3 separate regions of the Homo sapiens genome follow, and regions 1 and 2 are each linked to region 3. The links come from fine-mapping of genetic effects on gene expression. A gene starts in region 3. Each other region holds a variant in brackets. All regions are shown on one strand. Distances are between the middles of the regions.

What was found. PIP is the estimated chance that this variant, and not a neighbour inherited with it, causes the effect.
Region 1: its variant is fine-mapped to the expression of FBXO31 in whole blood (TOPMed, PIP above 0.99).
Region 2: its variant is fine-mapped to the expression of FBXO31 in whole blood (TOPMed, PIP above 0.99).

What each region holds. Positions count from the first base shown.
Region 1 is chr16:87,339,566-87,342,065 of GRCh38, reverse strand. The region is part of intron 5 of FBXO31 (F-box protein 31); the gene reads left to right. Among named protein-coding and RNA genes, the nearest start is that of C16orf95-DT, 23 kb to the right of the region's middle. The variant A/G (reference allele first, on the strand shown) is at 1,481.
Region 2 is chr16:87,344,489-87,346,988 of GRCh38, reverse strand. The region is part of intron 3 of FBXO31 (F-box protein 31); the gene reads left to right. Among named protein-coding and RNA genes, the nearest start is that of C16orf95-DT, 28 kb to the right of the region's middle. RefSeq lists enhancers at 1-288, 289-844. The variant C/T (reference allele first, on the strand shown) is at 1,452.
Region 3 is chr16:87,382,577-87,385,076 of GRCh38, reverse strand. It overlaps FBXO31 (F-box protein 31), which reads left to right and starts at 1,301. Exons shown (of 9, transcript NM_024735.5): 1 at 1,301-1,672. The coding sequence starts at 1,333. TRM-CAT6-1 (tRNA-Met (anticodon CAT) 6-1) reads left to right here and starts at 983; the gene lies at 983-1,055. LOC124903747 (a long non-coding RNA gene) reads right to left here and starts at 1,144. Exons shown (of 2, transcript XR_007065168.1): 1 at 881-1,144. RefSeq lists enhancers at 193-844, 845-1,498 and silencers at 906-1,565, 1,706-1,945.

The DNA of each region.
Region 1 (2,500 bases), 43 kb after region 3:
TTAGCCAGGCATGCTACCATGCTACGGGGTTATGCCATGTTGCCCAGGCTGGTCACAAACTCCTGGGCTCAAGCCGTCTTCCCACCTTGACCTCCCAAAGTGCTGGGATTGCAGGTGTGAGCCATCGCGCGCGGCCAGGGTGTGCTTTTCTTAGCTAGTTTGAGTTGTGGTGGTTTCCCCATCAGCCAGAGGACTGCAGAGAAGGTTGAGATGAACCAAATGTCCTGTTTCTCGGAATTCTTTGCAAGTAAGTGACGTTCCTGTTTTCTTGAATAGATGGCATGTGAAGATGATCAGTAACGGAAATGTTTTAATTATGCTGTTATTTTAGATTTGATTTTATATACAGAAACACAACGTATGTGTGTGATTGCTGTGGTTCAATTTTTTTTTTTTTTTTTTTTTTTTTTGAGACGGAGTCTCGCTCTGTTGCCCAGGCTGGAGTGCAGTGACGTGATCTTGGCTCACTGCAACTTCCGCCTTCCCGGTTCAGGCAGTTCTACTGCCTCAGCCTCCTGAGGAGCTGGGCTTAGAGGCACCTGCCACCATGCCTGGCTAATTTTTGTATTTTTAGTAGAGATGGGGTTTCACCATGTTGGCCAGGCTGGTCTCGAACTCCTGACCTCAGGCGATCCACCCATCTCGGCCTCCCAAAGTGCCGGGATTACAGGTGTGAGCCACTGCTCCTGGCCTTATGGTTCACATTTAAGTGAAAAATGTCAACAGATTTTTCAAGAATAGAAACTCCTCAGCTGTTGAGCCCTTAAAAAAGAAAACCATATTACATTTCTGGTACTATATACTTTGGGATTAGGAAAAGTTTCTGTAAGCCTACTTCTGTGTGTGGGCTCACTGATTTTGAACTGGAGTAGTGTTTTTCCTGATTGTAAATATAACAACATGTGCTCCTTGTGGAAATGAGAGAAACACCCAGGAGTGAGGGTGAGAGGGAAGGTATTGCTGGAATCTTGATGGGGGGAGTTTATGTTTCCCTTATTCTGAGTGAGACCAGCCTAGTGTCTTGGGATCAGGAGCTCTCTGTGGTTTTATGAACTGTTTCATGAACTGTCTGGTCATAGCCTGTGCCTCTGTTTCTGTTTGGTGTTGGCGGGTTTCAAGTGGGTTTGTAGGAGCTTGTTAACTATTAGGAAATCGAAGCCCTTCCAGATAGGAGTTGCCAGGTTTTTTTCTTATTCCTTTTTTTTGTCTTTGGATTTCTCTTATGGTGTGTTTTCCATCCATGGAATTTTTTATTTTTAATGTTAATTTTTAAGAGAGAGGGTGTCTCACTTTGTTGCCCAGGCAGGTCTCAAACTCCTGGCTCGAGTGATCTTACCGCCTTGGCCTCCCAAAGTGCTGGGGCTACAGGCATGAGCCACCACGCCCAGCCGTATTTTTAATTTTTACATAAGCAGATGTATCCATCTTTCTTTAAAAGACTCTCAGTTTAGTGCCATCCTGAGATCTCTCCCTGAAGCAC[A/G]TATGTTTACAAATGAGCTCATGCTTTTATTTTTCTCTTGTGTCTGTGTCTGGTTCCGTTGGATCTATTCTGATGTGAAATGTAAGGCTTAGCCCCAGCCTTGGTTCTGTGCAGACCTGATCTGTTATCTCCACACTGGATGCGTGATAACCACACTTCCTACATCAATTTGTAGCGCTGCTTTTGTCCTAGGTTACCCTGTATACTTGGTTCATTTCTGGACTTGATACTCTGATCCATATGTCTGTCCACATGTCAGTACCACACTATTCTCATTCTTATAGTTTTTGTTTGTTTTTGAGATGTAGTCTCGCCCTGTCCCCCACACTGGAGTACAGTGGTATGATCTTGGCTCACTGCAACCTCCGCCTCCTGGGTTCAGGTGATTCTCCTGCCTCAGCCTCACTCCCAAGTAGCTGGTATTACAGGCGCCTGCCACCATGCCTGCCTAATTTTTATATTTTTAGCGGAGACAGGTTTTCCCCATGTTGGCCAGGTTGGTCTCGAACTCCTGACCTCAGGTGATCCGCCCACCTCGGCCTCCCAAAGTGCTGGGATTACAGGCGCGAGCCACCGCGCCCGGCCGAATTCTTGTAGTTTTATCGCTATGTTTTATTTTATTTATGGCTTAGAGATAGGGTCTCACTGTGTTGCCCAGGCTGGGCTCAAGTGATCCTCCTACCTCAGCCTCCCAAAGTGTTGGGATTATAGCTGTGAGCCATTGCACTGGCCTATCACTGTATTTTAATTGCCTGTATTCCTCTTCTATTTTGGAATGTTCCCGGCTCATCTTGTTTATTTGCTGTGTGAACTCTAGAAGCAGCTATTTCCCAGAAACATCCCCTTGCTGTCTCTTCTTGCAATTGGAATAGCAGCACGCTTACGGTCAGTGTATGGGGTGCTGCCGTTTGTGTGATGTCCACACCCCCATCCGACATACTCCCTCGGCTCGTCCCGCTTCTGAGCTCCCCCTCCGGGAGTTGACAGGGTGAGGGTGCCACTGTCCCAGGTAGGGCAGAG
Region 2 (2,500 bases), 38 kb after region 3:
TGCTTAGAGCAACACTTCGGCCTTGTGGCCCGTCCTTGGACTCTCTGGTCTGAGGGGGTGGCTTGTGAGGGCCTTTGCTTCCTGGACGCTGAGGCCCATCGCGCACATGTTGGCGGGGTCTGGAGCCCGCCCTCAGCCAGGTCCTTCCGTTCCTGGTCTTTGCCCCCCATGTTCCAGCCATGGTGCACTCTGACGTCTGTTTCCTTGGGTTCTGCTGTGGACCCGCTCTGACCACCCTGCCTCCCGCCCCCTGTGCCCTCCTACTGGAGCCTCTCGAACGGAAAGCCCTGCTCTGACTTTGTTGAGCTCTGGGCAGGTGGCTGGCCCCTGCTAGAAAGTGCTAGAACGTTGCAGGCGGAAGTCCAGGCTGGTGGCAGAGTCGTCTCCGTTTCCCTTCTCCCGGCAGCCTGCTTGCCGTTGGGGTCTGAGGACCCGTGAGGACATTTCTTTCCTGTTCGTTGGGTCTGCCATGGCAGTGCCTGTCTAGTCCTGGGTACTTGATCATGGCTGGAGATGGAAGTCTGGCTTTCTTTTTTATTAAATTCCCGTTTTTCGGTGAAGTTTTCCTTCTCTTTGTTAATCTTTTTGGGTACAGTAGTGAAAGTTTCTTTCGAGTCTAGCCCCCGCCTTTTCTCCTGATCTCCAGGCGTGTTGGATGCCCCCCACCCCTCACTGTGCGCCTGGGCACTTGCTGGGTGCCGTGGCCTGGTCTCCTCAAGAGGCCCTGGCCCCGGCCTGCGGGCAAAGTGGAGTCAGGGCACCTGCTCTGCGCAGGCCCGGGGTATGCGCGCGTCTCAGGCTTGGGGAAGCGTCCCGTTCTCATTCCGGGTCTCTCTCCTTCCCAGGACACAACCCTCTGTAGGGCCCAGCCGGAGGCCGTCCGTGACTCTATCCCCAGGCCCTGATTCCTCCTTTTCTCTTCCTGGCTTTGTGAGTCACGCTTCGCTTGGCCCCTTCTCCTCTCAGCAGCCACTCTGCTTCCCTCCTCCACCTCCCACCCCTCACTCAGGATTCCGCAGGTGCCTCGTGCAACTGCCTGTGTGCAGCATGGGGCTGTGTTCTCTGGTTGCCATCTTTGGCGTTTGGCGGCGGTAGTCCTGGCTCCTGTGTAGACCTGGTCTCCGTGTGTGCCTCTCCAGCCTGCAGGTGCCAGACATGGGCCTTCCTCCCCAGCCAGTGGTCAGTGGCCTCAGGAAGGGGGGAGAAGGCCCTGCCCCTCGCCTCTCAGCCTGTCCCTTCTCTTCAGGGCCTTGGGTCCTCGTCACTGGGCTACCTTCATTGCTCTCTGATGTGTTCAGTCTTTTTTTCTTTTTCTTGTTTTCTTTCTCCTGGAATTAGGAGAGAGTGTTCAGTCTTCGTGGCTGGTCTCAGCAGGAGGGCAGGTTTGATATGAGCTCTGGGGCCAGGGCCAGGAGCAGATGTCTGCTTGTAGTTTTAGTTTCTGTGTTTCT[C/T]GGTCACCTGCCAATTTATGTTGAAAAGTAGCTGCTCATTCAACACAGTGAAGTTGTCTGACTTTTCTTGGTATTTGCAGGTGTCCCTGTGGGGTGAGGAGGTGGTGCTCTGCGGGCTCTGCGTGGTGCCAGTGTCTGCATGGAGTCTGCATGGCTTCCGGTCCGCCCTCCCACCCTCTTCCCCTCCCTCCCTCCCACCCTGCCTCCCGCCCTCCCCGCACCCTCCTGCTGGAGCCTCTTGAACTTTCCGGAAAGCCCCGCCCTGACTTTGTTGAGCTCTGGGCAGGCAGCTGGCCCCTGAGGTGTCACTGTTGCCATCGTTCTTGCTGTGTTGAAAATCCGGTGCTGGTGTTGGGATTGTGCTCCGCTCCCTTTTGTGGGACCAGGGGCTGAGCCCAGCGAGGGCGGGTGTGTCTGTCTCCCCGTGGCCTCTGCACAGGTTCTTCCAGGCCTGGCATGCATGGCCCCTGGGCAGATGGCTCCTCTGTGGCTCTGGGCTTTGTTCCTCAGGTGGGGTTCGGGGCAGGGATGGGCTCTGCCCCCAGGTGGGGTTCGGGGCAGGGATGGGCTCTGCCCCCAGGTGGGGTTTGGGGCAGGGATGGGCTCTGCCCCCAGGTGGGGTTTGGGGAAGGGATGGGCGCTGCCGGAGGTGGGGTTTGGGGCAGGGATGGGTTTTGCCCCCAGGTGGGGTTTTCATCTGCTGGGAGCCGCTGTGGAGAAACCCGCTCTGCGTTTGTTGTGTTGGGCGTCGCGTGCTCCAGCCTTGCTTTTAGGATGTTTCCTCTGAGAGACCAGCCCGGCAGCTCACAGGGTGGGCAGATTGCTTTCCTTTCTTTTAGTGGAGGAAGGGTAATTGTTTTACTTACTGGCAGTGAGTAATAGAGTAAAAAAAAAAACCCCAAAAAACAAAAAGCAGTGGATAATTGGGGAAAGTGGAGTCTGTGAGAGAACAGCACCAGCTCACGCTTGACCCAGGCTCGTGAGCCACAGAAATGATGGAATTCTCTCCTTGGTTGCTGGAGCTGGCAGTCTCATGGGTCCCAGCTCTC
Region 3 (2,500 bases):
AAGTGCTAGAATTACAGGCGTGAGCCACTGCGCCTGGCCTGTGTGGTTTGTTTGTTTGTTTGTTTGAAGAGACAGGGTTTCACCATGTTGGTCAGGCGGGTCTCAAACTCCTGACCTCAGGTGATGCACCCTTCTCCGCCTCCCAAAGTGCTGGGATTACAGACGTGAGCCACCGCGCCCAGCCATTTGTGGCTATTTTTGTTTTTTGTTTGTTTTGGAGACAGGGTCACGCTGTGTTGCCCAGGCTGAAGTGCAGTGGCACCATCACGGGTCACTACAGCCTCGGCCTCCTGGGATCAAGCGATCCTCCCGTCTCAGCTTCTCTTTCTAAAATTTTGTTTTGTAGACAGGGTCTCGCTGTATTGCCCAGGCCGGTCTCGAGCTCCTGGCCTCGATTGATACTCCCGCCTGGGCCTCCAAGAGATGGGGTCCGAGGCGAGCCCACGGCGACGTGCGCGGCTGCTCAGGTGAGAGGACGCCTTCGCGGTCACCACCCGCGGACCTGGGAGACGACCCCGCTCAGCGGCCTCGGCGGAGCCCAGCTGGAGCAGGCGTGCGCGGCTCCCAGCAGCTGCAGGAACAGGCGCCCTTTGGGCGGCGCCGCATGGCAGGGCCTCCCTTTCCAGACCGGGCGCGCATCCCCGGATCTCTTGGGCCGCGCCGGCCGCCGCCCCTCCAAGCCCTCCCCGGGGCTTCCGCAGGGAGCTCGGGATCCCCGAAGGTCCCTGCAGAGCTCCGCAGCTCGGGCCTTTTGGTTACCATAAGGCGGAGACGATGGAACGCGCGTTGTTTCAATGGACAAAAGGGCTTCTAGGCGCCCTTTGGGGTTCTGGCTGCTGCCTCTGTATTTGGAGGCTGTAAGGCGCATCTTTCTACTCACCGGCCGGCGCGGCACAGTTTCGGGCGCCGGAAGCGGGACGCACGGGCGCGAGGGGCGACCCCTATCTCCACAAAAGCCGCGGCGCGAAGTGGTCGCCGAGCAGCCTCGTTAGCGCAGTAGGCAGCGCGTCAGTCTCATAATCTGAAGGTCGTGAGTTCGAGCCTCACACGGGGCAGTCTAACGTTTTGCACTCGGCATCACCACTTTCTTTTCTCATGCCCGTCACGGGCGGCGCCCTCACGCTGGAGGGGAGGGCAGCAGTGCGGGGTCTCTGAGGTCGCCGCCCCGCGGGGAGGGGGTGGCGCGGCCGGGGCGGAGCTCTACGTAGGGGCGGGGCTAGGCTCTCCAGGGGGCGTGGCGAGCTCTGCGGCGGGGGCGTGGCTCGGCGCTGGCGGGGCGGGGCCGCGCTGGAGCGTGCGCACAGGCGGCAGCAGTGGCCGTCACTGGGCGGCATGGCGGTGTGTGCTCGCCTTTGCGGCGTGGGCCCGTCGCGCGGATGTCGGCGCCGCCAGCAGCGCCGGGGCCCGGCCGAGACGGCGGCGGCCGACAGCGAGCCGGACACAGACCCCGAGGAGGAGCGCATCGAGGCTAGCGCCGGGGTCGGGGGCGGCTTGTGCGCGGGCCCCTCGCCGCCGCCCCCGCGCTGCTCGCTGCTGGAGCTGCCGCCCGAGCTGCTGGTGGAGATCTTCGCGTCGCTGCCGGGCACGGACCTACCCAGCTTGGCCCAGGTCTGCACGAAGTTCCGGCGCATCCTCCACACCGACACCATCTGGAGGAGGCGTTGCCGTGAGGGTGAGCGCGCGGGGGTGGCGGGGCCGGGAGGGGCGGGGGGTCCCTGCCAGGTGGAGGCCTCGGAGCTGGGAGTGGCGGGGGCGGTGGCCCCGGCCGGGGGCCACCAGTTGGGCGCGGGGCCCGGCGATGTGGTGTTTTGGGTGTGGGTGGGGAGCGGCCGCGGTGACACCACGTTGAGGGGGCCAGGGAGGTATTTGAGGCGGTTAGGGAGGGTCCGAGGGGTCCAAGAGAGGCAGACGGGGTAGGGAGGGGTTGAGGGCGTCAGGGAGGCATCGAAGAGGCCCTGACGCGGGGCACGGGACACCACGGGGCCGAGGCCGTGCCGGGAGCTGGGGCTGGGATCCCTCGAGGTCTGCGCGGGGCCTAAGCTGACGCCTGGGGGCCGCCTCCTCTGCCCCTGTCTTGAAGGCGAGCCGAGGGTGCCCCGCTGGCCCTGACCAGAGACGAGGTGAACTTGAAGAAATGGGAGCAGGCCGGGCGCGGTTTCACGCCTGTAATCTCAGCACTTAGGGAGGCCGAGGCGGGCGGGTCACCTGAGGTCAGGAGTTCGAGACCAGCCTGGTGAAGATGGTAAAACCCCGTCTCTACTTACAAAAATACAAAAATTAGCCGGGCGTGGTAGCGGGCGCCTGTAATCCCAGCTACTCGGGAGGGTGAGGCAGAAGAATGGCTTGAACCCGGGAGGCGGAGGTTGCACTGAGCCAACATCTGGGCCATTGCACTCCACCCTAGGCGACAGAGTGCGACTTGGTCTCAAACAACAGCAACAAAAAAAATTACGGGAGTAGGGGAAGCCCAGTGTCGGGGGCTCCTGATGGTGGGGGCGTA